3 separate regions of the Homo sapiens genome follow, and regions 2 and 3 are each linked to region 1. The links come from fine-mapping of genetic effects on plasma protein levels. A gene starts in region 1. Each other region holds a variant in brackets. All regions are shown on one strand. Distances are from middle to middle. Region 1 holds the start of AGRP (agouti related neuropeptide). Region 2 overlaps PHAF1 (phagophore assembly factor 1). Region 3 holds the start of LOC124903703 (a long non-coding RNA gene).

Evidence for each region. PIP is the posterior inclusion probability: the model's chance that the variant is causal. Protein levels are from antibody-based Olink assays in UK Biobank. Linkage for the fine-mapping came from a reference panel and not from the study's own genotypes, which makes the PIPs less certain.
Region 2: its variant is fine-mapped to the plasma level of the AGRP protein (UK Biobank, PIP 0.90).
Region 3: its variant is fine-mapped to the plasma level of the AGRP protein (UK Biobank, PIP 0.93).

The regions. Positions count from the first base shown.
Region 1 is chr16:67,481,978-67,484,733 of GRCh38, forward strand. It overlaps AGRP (agouti related neuropeptide), which reads right to left and starts at 1,570. Exons shown (of 4, transcript NM_001138.2): 1 at 1,540-1,570; 2 at 1,292-1,424; 3 at 1,048-1,133; 4 at 594-841. The coding sequence starts at 1,421. The coding sequence ends at 659. It overlaps ATP6V0D1-DT (ATP6V0D1 divergent transcript), which reads left to right. Exons shown (of 4, transcript NR_184227.1): 2 at 2,133-2,351.
Region 2 is chr16:67,138,330-67,141,085 of GRCh38, forward strand. It overlaps PHAF1 (phagophore assembly factor 1), which reads left to right. Exons shown (of 16, transcript NM_025187.5): 9 at 1,655-1,788; 10 at 2,182-2,265. Among named protein-coding and RNA genes, the nearest start is that of B3GNT9, 11 kb to the right of the region's middle. The variant G/A (reference allele first, on the strand shown) is at 1,210.
Region 3 is chr16:67,563,160-67,565,915 of GRCh38, forward strand. All of the region lies in intron 1 of CTCF (CCCTC-binding factor), which reads left to right. It overlaps LOC124903703 (a long non-coding RNA gene), which reads right to left and starts at 291. Exons shown (of 2, transcript XR_007065094.1): 1 at 136-291. RefSeq lists an enhancer at 1-585 and a silencer at 339-438. The variant A/G (reference allele first, on the strand shown) is at 951.

The DNA.
Region 1 (2,756 bases):
ACCCTTCATCCAGATAAGGGGTAACGGACAGGGACCGCAAAAGGAGTACTTAAAACCCGGAAAACTTTGTAACTGAGCCCCTTCAGCCTCTTGCTCAGGCCCACTCCCACCCTGCGTAGTGCTTTCTCGCTTTAACAAATCCCAGCTGTCTGCTTCCTTCCTGTGTGTCATTCGTTTGTTACTTTCTGGGTTTTGTTCAATTCTTTGTTCGAAACGCTAAGGACCTGAACAACGCACACTCCTGGCCTTCCCTCTGGTAACAGGATGAGGGGCAGGCTTTGCGTGGAAGTAGCAGCAAGCCCTGGAGCCTAAGGCTTATTTGTTAGCCAGGAGTGATAGCCCCTGTGCCACGCTGCGTCCTGCGTTCCCCGCACTTGCTGTACAAGATTTTCGAAAGCTGGAGTGCGGCTCTTCTCTATTTTTCCCAGGGGCACCAGGACCCCTAAAAGCGCCCGTGTATGTGCCTCCTATGATAGGGTAGCCCAGGCCCTGGGATAAGAGTATGTGTGGTTTCTTGGCTTGGTGACACTCCCACCCCCTCCATGAACCCTCCCTCCTTTGACGGCCACGTTTGAAATAACCACAGCCTTGGGGTTGGTCCCATCCTTTATTCGAGTTTCCTTGCCCCTACCCTAGCCCCGACCCTGACGTTGGCCAGCTAGGTGCGGCTGCAGGGATTCATGGCAGTACCCAGCTTGCGGCAGTAGCAGAAGGCATTGAAGAAGCGGCAGTAGCACGTGGCACATGGGTCACAGCAAGGCACCTGCTGTCCCAGGCAGGACTCATGCAGCCTTACGCAGCGACGTGAGGAGCGGGGCTCGCGGTCCTGCAGGTCTAGTACCTGCAGGGGTGGGGAACCAGCACAGGCCTCTAAAGACAGATCCAGGGATCTTACCTGTCCCAACCTGTGCAGGATGGCAGTGGAGCATGGGAAGGGGTGGTCGGTAGTGTCGTCGCTGGTGAGGGAGTTTGGAGCTGGGGAGAGGAGCTAATACCCAATGCCCCCTCCCAAGGGCCACCACCTTACCCTTTTCCCTGAGCAGTTACCTCTGCCAAGGCCTGAGCCTCCTGCAACAGATCCTCTTCTGCCTGTTCTGCAGTTGTCTTCTTCAGTGGGGCCCGCAGGCCCAGGCCTGGGGCAGAGGATGTGAGGGCAGGAACCCCCATGCACAAAGCACCCACCTCCCAGGGGAGGGTTTGGGAAGGGAGAAAGAGGGTTTATGCCAGGGGAGACTATTTGTGGCCAGAGGGTATTCAGGCCCCGCCCAGTCCCACCCTTGCTCACACTGACCTGGGAGCTCTGGGAGCAGGGCCTGGTCAGGCCTTCTGATGCCCTCCATGGGGGCCAAGCCCATCTGGGCTCCTCGCGTGGCAGGCAGTGCCAGCAGCAGGGCACAGCTCAGCACCGCTGCGGTCAGCATGGCCTGGCTCAGCAGGAAGATGTACCACTTAGTCCCTCCTTATCCTTGGAGTCCCCTCTAGGTGCCCAGATAGAGACCCCACAGAGAGGAGGAGTCCCTGCCCAACCTGAGGACTCACCTCTGCCTCCGGGATTCTTGCCTAGAGAGTTCCCGGCCACCCCGTGCCCTTGGCTTATATGGCAGGGCCTAATGAAGGGCCACACGTGACTGATCCCTGCAGCCAGGCCGTGAAGGACCCTTCCTGGAGGGTGGGGGCACAGTTCAGGCCCTCACTCCCTGAACCTGAGCCTTTTGTTCTACAAGAGGAGTGCCTATCTCCAATTTGGGGTGAGGTTTCCAGGAGCCGATTAAAATTTGGGAGCAAGAGAGGGTGCCCAGGGTCCACAAATTTCCACAGGACAGGGACCTAGGAGCTGAGCAGGGCTAGAACCATTAGCAATAACAAGGCAGGCGGCCCTGAAAGCTTAATTTAATTTGTGGCCCCAGAGATGCTTACTCAACCCCTATGTGGCATGTTGTTTCCTGTGCTTCCAAGAATTCGGGTCAAGGACATTGGAGCGGGTGATGGGCCAATGGCCACTGTTGGGCAGGGGTAGGTGCAGAACCAGAACCTGGGTTTCTTTGGAGGGAAAGGGGAAGGAAAAGCCCACCTAACCAATCCTAGGCCCTCCTGACTACATTTCTGGTCCTCCCCTCCCTTTCTCCCTCCAGGTTTCTCCAAGACCGCCCACTCCTGCTCCTGTCCCCAAACCCCTTTCTGCCTAGGGTTCCTGGAAGCCAAGGAAACAGAACGAACTGTTCCCTGGGTGGGCGAGCCACTGCAGAGTACAAAGCTTTCAGGCCGCCTGCCTCATTAGCACTAATGGCTGCTCCCTTCCGCCCTGTGTCGTCAGGACTGTCTATGCCTGGTCTCATCAGCACAAGGCTGGGGTAAGGACTGCCCTTTTGTGGAGATGGCAGGACATACAGGACCCTGCTGCCCCTGCCTTCCCTCACCCCACTGCAGAGCTGTTTATCACACACGTGTCCATCTGGGAAAGGAATGCAGGCTGAATCAGCTTTGAGAGGATCGCAAGGCCCCAGTGCACAAACTGGGTTGGCACAAGGCAGTGGAAAAAAGATGAAGGGGGCCAGGTATGGTGGCTCACACCTGTAATTCCAGCATTTTGAGAGGCCAAGGTGGGAGGATCACAAGGCCAGGGGTTTAAGACCAGCCTGGGTATCATGGTGAGACCCCGTTGCTACAAAAAATAAAAAAATAGCTGGGTGTAGTGGTGCATGCCTGTAGTAGAGGCTGAGGTGGGAGGATGGCTTGAGCACAGGGATTCAAGAGTG
Region 2 (2,756 bases), 340 kb before region 1:
TTGGGTTAGTTGAACTCAGTATTTAGTTATTTCAGATTTGGGTTCTCTGAAGCTTCTGCATATAAAAAATGGATTGTTACACATGAGAGAACTTTGACAACTGTAAAGCCTTGTGCTGAGTAAGATGGTGTCAGTGATTATCATGGCACCAAGAATTACAATCCTTCTCAGATTCTTGGCTTCCTTTTTTTTTTTGCTGGGTGGTGGGAGCAAAAACCTTGTCTCCCCCTCCACAAAATGGGGAAATTTTTACTGTTGGTGTATCTATTACTGTGCCACAACCACTTCTACATTTGTGTGTTTGTGTGTGTGTCATTAACTGTAATCATTTCTGAAATGTTTTATTAGAAAAAGTCAGAGCTTAAAGATTCTTCCCAAAGAATAAACTTTTGGCAAATCAGAAGGTCTTTTATTCCTCCACTTAGCTGGTTTGTCCCTTTTGAGTGATAATGGCTCTTGTCTGGGTTGGAGGGCTCTGTCAGGTGTTTGTGTAGAATTAGGGAGACAAGTAATGCATGCTTCACTCTACTTGTTGATAGAGCAGTTTTACAGGTTCAGTGTCTCTGGTTAGGGGTTACCATTGAGAGTACTTTTGTAGTTTTTTTTTAAGACAGTGTCTCACTCTGTCACCCAGGCTGGAATGCAGTGGTGTGATCTTAGCTCACTGCAGTCTCTGCCTCCTGGGCTCAAGTGATCCTCCCACCTTAGCCTCCCAAGTAGCTAGGACTGCAGGAGTGTGCCACCACGCCTGGCTAATTTTTATATTATATTTTGTAGAGCCAGGGTTTCACCATGTTGCCCAGGCTGGTCTTGAACGCCTGAGCTCAAGCAGTTCACCCCGCTTGGCCTCCCAAAGTGCTGGGATCATAGGCAAGAGCCACCACACCCGGCCAAGAAGTACCTCTTAACATAAATCCTTGCATCTTACCATAGTTGTGTGATGATCTGATTAAGGTCTTCTCCAGCACACATAAGCTCCAGTGATGGAGCTTATGGAGAAAAAACAGCACTGCCTTTTTTTTTTTTTTTTTTTTTTTTTGAGACTGTCTCAGTCTGTCACCCAGGCTAGAGTGCAGTGGTGTGATCTTGGCTCACTGCAACCTCTGCCTCCTGGGCTCAAGTGATCCTCCCACCTCACCCTTCCAAGTAGATGGGACTACAGACACCCACCACCATGCCCAGCTAATTTTTGTATGTTTTTGTAGAGAC[G/A]GAGTATCACCATGTTGCCCAGGCTGGTGTCAAACTCTGAGCTCAAACAACCCATCCGCCTTGGCCTCCCAAAGTGCTGGGATTATAGGCGTGAGCCACCACGTCTGGCCAGAAACTGCACTGTTTTTGTTCACTTTTGTTTCTTCAACATCTAGCACAATGTCCTAGCCCATGGTAGGCAATAAAGTAGTGAATGAATAAGTGAATGAAGTATCCAGAGCTTCATGTCACATGTGGGGGATTGAATAAGTCCCTGGCATTATTTTGAATAGCGATCTCTTGTACAGTCTTAAGCCCTGGTGACCTGATGTTTCTGATTGCATGCAGTCTTGCCCCTTGCCAGACCTAATAATGTAGCATGCAGCCAGTAGCTTCTCTGGGGCCCCCAGAGAGGGTCTCTGGTCCTAACCATAACCTGACAACCTCTCTGTCTTGTTTTTTGCAGGTTGTGGACCTGGCCTATTAGCAGATGCCAAGATGCGGGTATTTGAACGTTCAGTGTATTTTGGTGATTCCTGCCAAGATGTTCTTAGCATGCTTGGCTCTCCACACAAAGTCTTCTATAAATCAGAAGACAAGGTAGGGGAATTATGTTGCAGTCTCCTCCTTTTTTTTAATCAACACTAATTTAATATTGAGTATAAACTGTTTGCTATTTTCCCATAGAACTTGTTCTAAGTAAAGCTAATGGTAAAGTAAATTGAAAACTGTTTTCTAACCCCTGTAGTCCAATTACCCTGACTCTGTCCCTCTCCATAGTGCCTACCTTTCCTTAGAGACCAAGACAGTCCCTAGTCAACGACAGCTGGCCCCCTCTCCTCCTAGATTGGTCAGCACCAGCAGCTGAGACTCCCCACTCTTGCTTGTTCCGCAGCTTAATGTTACACATGGAACACAATTTGTAGACTTTCAGTTAATCCAGAACTATATTAGAGGGATGGATTTTAATTTATGGTTATTTTTTCCCTACAGATGAAAATTCATTCTCCTTCCCCTCATAAACAAGTTCCATCGAAGTGTAATGACTACTTTTTTAACTACTTCACTCTTGGAGTGGTAAGTTGTGATTCCTCAGAGAAGCCCTTCATTTCTATTGGGGTGGGCAGTGCATCTTTGCAGATCTGTGTGTCCACATGCAGCTGGAACCATGCCTGGACATTGGGGAACCTAGCCCCAGCTGTCTTTGCCCAGGGTTGTTTTGCATAGGCTCTGGTACTCCAAAGTAGACCTTGCCTGCAACCAGGATTGCTCAGGAACACTAGGTTCCCTGGTACCTGTTGACTTCTTTTCTGAGGGAAACATGTTCCACAGATGGAGGCCTTGGAAATCATTCAGATTAAGCTGTTTGGAGAGCTGCCCTTTTGTAAAGCATAGGACCCTCTTCTTGAGTCACAAAATGGAGACTGAAAAGGATTGGAGACAGTGGGGTGTGCTTGTATATTTTTAGAGGACCACCCCAGAGGCATTGCTGTATCCCTGTGCTATGGACCCAGGGAGCTGGATATAGCTGGTAGCTGGCCAGTGCGGACAGTCCAGCTGGTGGGTGA
Region 3 (2,756 bases), 81 kb after region 1:
CGCCCGCCTAGCTTAAGGGTTCGGACCGACTGCCGCCGCGCGCTAAGCCAGGTCCCGGTGCCGTATGGGTGTCGGGCCCTGGCCGTCGCGTCTCGGGCTGCCCCTCCTCCAGCCAGCCCCGTCCCCGGAACCTACCCTGCCGGCCTGCGTGCCTTCCCAGCTGCTTGGCTGCTCGGCGGTCGCTCCCAGTCCGCGCGTCGCCGCCGCTGGTCTCCGTCTCCGCCGAGTGGCGCAGGCGGCGCTGCAGCGGCTGCGAGCAGAGGGACCCCAGAGCTGCCGAGAGCTCCCTCTGCAAGGCTGGCTGAGCTGCTCGCACCTCTACGCTGCCTGAGCGGGCGGGGGGACGCGCGCTCGCCGCCCCCGCTGCGCCCCCAAACTCGCGCCCGGGTTCCTGGCCGGACCCGACCGGTGCGGCCCCCCCACGGTGGGCGGAAAAGATGCGAGTTCCGCACCAAGTAGTTTTTATCCAGCCGGGTTCGGACTCCCCAGCCGAGTGATAGCAGCCTGACTTTGTGCGCTCAGAGATCTCAAAGGGACTGAAACTTAAATTTCATTCTGATCTCAAGTGACGTGACAAATTTCTGAATTTGGGAGTATGGGCTAAGTCCCTTGAGTTTCCCTCCCGCTTTAAAATGTCCTCACACTAACTTAGTACCTGATGCTCTAGGGCTAGGTGAAGGCGGTTCTGCCCCAGGATTGTGCAACTCGATCTAGAGCGCCAGTAGGGCAGAATGAGTTTATTCTTGACTCGACTGGTAATTTGCCCATGCGATGAAATATGAGGGTTGATGTTGTAATTGAATCCTGGGTCACTTGCTGCAGATGGTTTATAAATATCTACGCCTAATGTAACTACTGTTTAGTAGGAGACTTCCTGTAGCCCCGAGTTCAGCGTTAAGTAAACATTCGCATACGTAGTCTTCATACTTTGAGTTTCGATCAACTAGGAA[A/G]GTTAAAAACCAAGTCCTCATAGGTGGGAAAGGAAGTTAAACAAGGCATATATTTAAATTTATTCGGTCCTTAAGTTTTCTTTCTTCACTAAAAAGCATCCCGTTGAATTGCGGGAGTCTTTTGCTTTTCCGTAAATATTCTAGTGCCTTAATATAGTTCATTGCAGCAGTTAATGTATCAGTTCGGGTTGTTTTGGAGAGAAGAAAGTCTGGATTAACCTGTTTTTAGGAAGGAAGCTATGTTAAGTTTATGAAGAAATTAAACAGCCTGGTCCTAACCAAAGTTGTCCAGTCCACTGTATGTAATCTCAATGTGTAGCTCCTCACTGCAGTCCTCTTCGTAGGCACGCTTTCTATGTCTCCTTTTGGAACCCTGCAAAATATTCCTGCCACCCCTCTTCCTCAATAAAATTGCATAGAGTAACTAAATGCAGTAGCGTTGATTGATAGTTAGACTTGGGAATAGAATCACCTTTAATTATCTAATATGTTAGTCCAATTGTGTAATTTATTGCATTCTTTTGTGACTTTGTTTTCCTTTTGAAATTGTGGTTAAGTAGCATGTTTTATTTATTTAAATAAGCTCAACATTGAGTTAAAAATTAAAATACAGCAGGTGTATAATCGAGCCAGGAGTAAAGCTTGTTTTCCCGGGTTAGTACTGTGCTCCATAGACCATATTTTGCTTCTTGGTTTGGTTGTTTCATATGCAGTCATCAGCTTCTTGGGTTTATACGTCATTTATGCTGTTTTAGTGGAATAGACCTTTTCCACACAGTTGCTATCCTTTGAAATTCCCATATGCCAGGAATCATGCTTTGTTTTGTTTTTATTAAAAAACAATCTACGGAGAGAATAAATTGAGGATGAATTGATATGTTAGGGTAACCCAGACCTTTTTTTTTTTTTGAGACGGAGTCTCGTTCTGTCCCCTAGGCTGGAGTGGCAGTGGTGCGATCTCGGCTCACTGCAACCTCTGCCTCCCGGATTCAAGCAATTCTCCTGTCTCTGCCTCCCAAGTAGCAGGAATTACAGGCCCGTGCCACCACGCCCGGCTAATTTTTGTATTTTTAGTAGAGACGGGTTTTCACGATGTTGGCCAGGCTGGTCTCGAACTCCTGACCTCAGGTGATCCACCCGCCTCAGCCTCCCAGAGTGCTGGGATTACAGGCGTGAGCCATCTCGCCAGGCCAGGACCTGTTATTTAAATTAGTGATAGGAGGATGATTAAAACAGGAATGTTTGCCTGCATAAGAAAATACTGCCTATTTAAGAGTAGTTGTGGCTGGGAGCGGTGGCTCACGCCTGTAATCCCAGCACTTTGGGTGACCAAGGCGGGAGAATCACGAGGTCAGGAGATTGAGACCATCCTGACTAACACAGTGAAACCCTGTCTCTACTAAAAATACAAAAAATTAGCCAGGCATGGTGGCACACGCCGTAGTCCTGGCTACTAGGGAGGCTGAGACAGGAGAACCGCTCGAACCTAGAAGGTGGAGGTTGCAGTGAGCCGAGATTGTGCTGCTGCACTCCAGCCTGGGCAACAGAGCAAGACTCTTATCTCAAAAAAAAAAAAAAAAAAAAAGAGTAGTTGTAAAGGTTAACTTTATCGGGATCCATTCAACCTATGTAAGAATTTAAGAGGTGAAGTTGTCCTTAAGATGCATTCAAATTCTAAGAGCTTTAGGATTTTATTTTAAAGTACACACGCAAATGGGGGCACTCACCTGGGACTTCTGAATGGCTTGGGGAGTTCCTTGGTGGAAGCCACTTGTGGCTGACTTAAGGCCCTGGGGAGGAATCCTG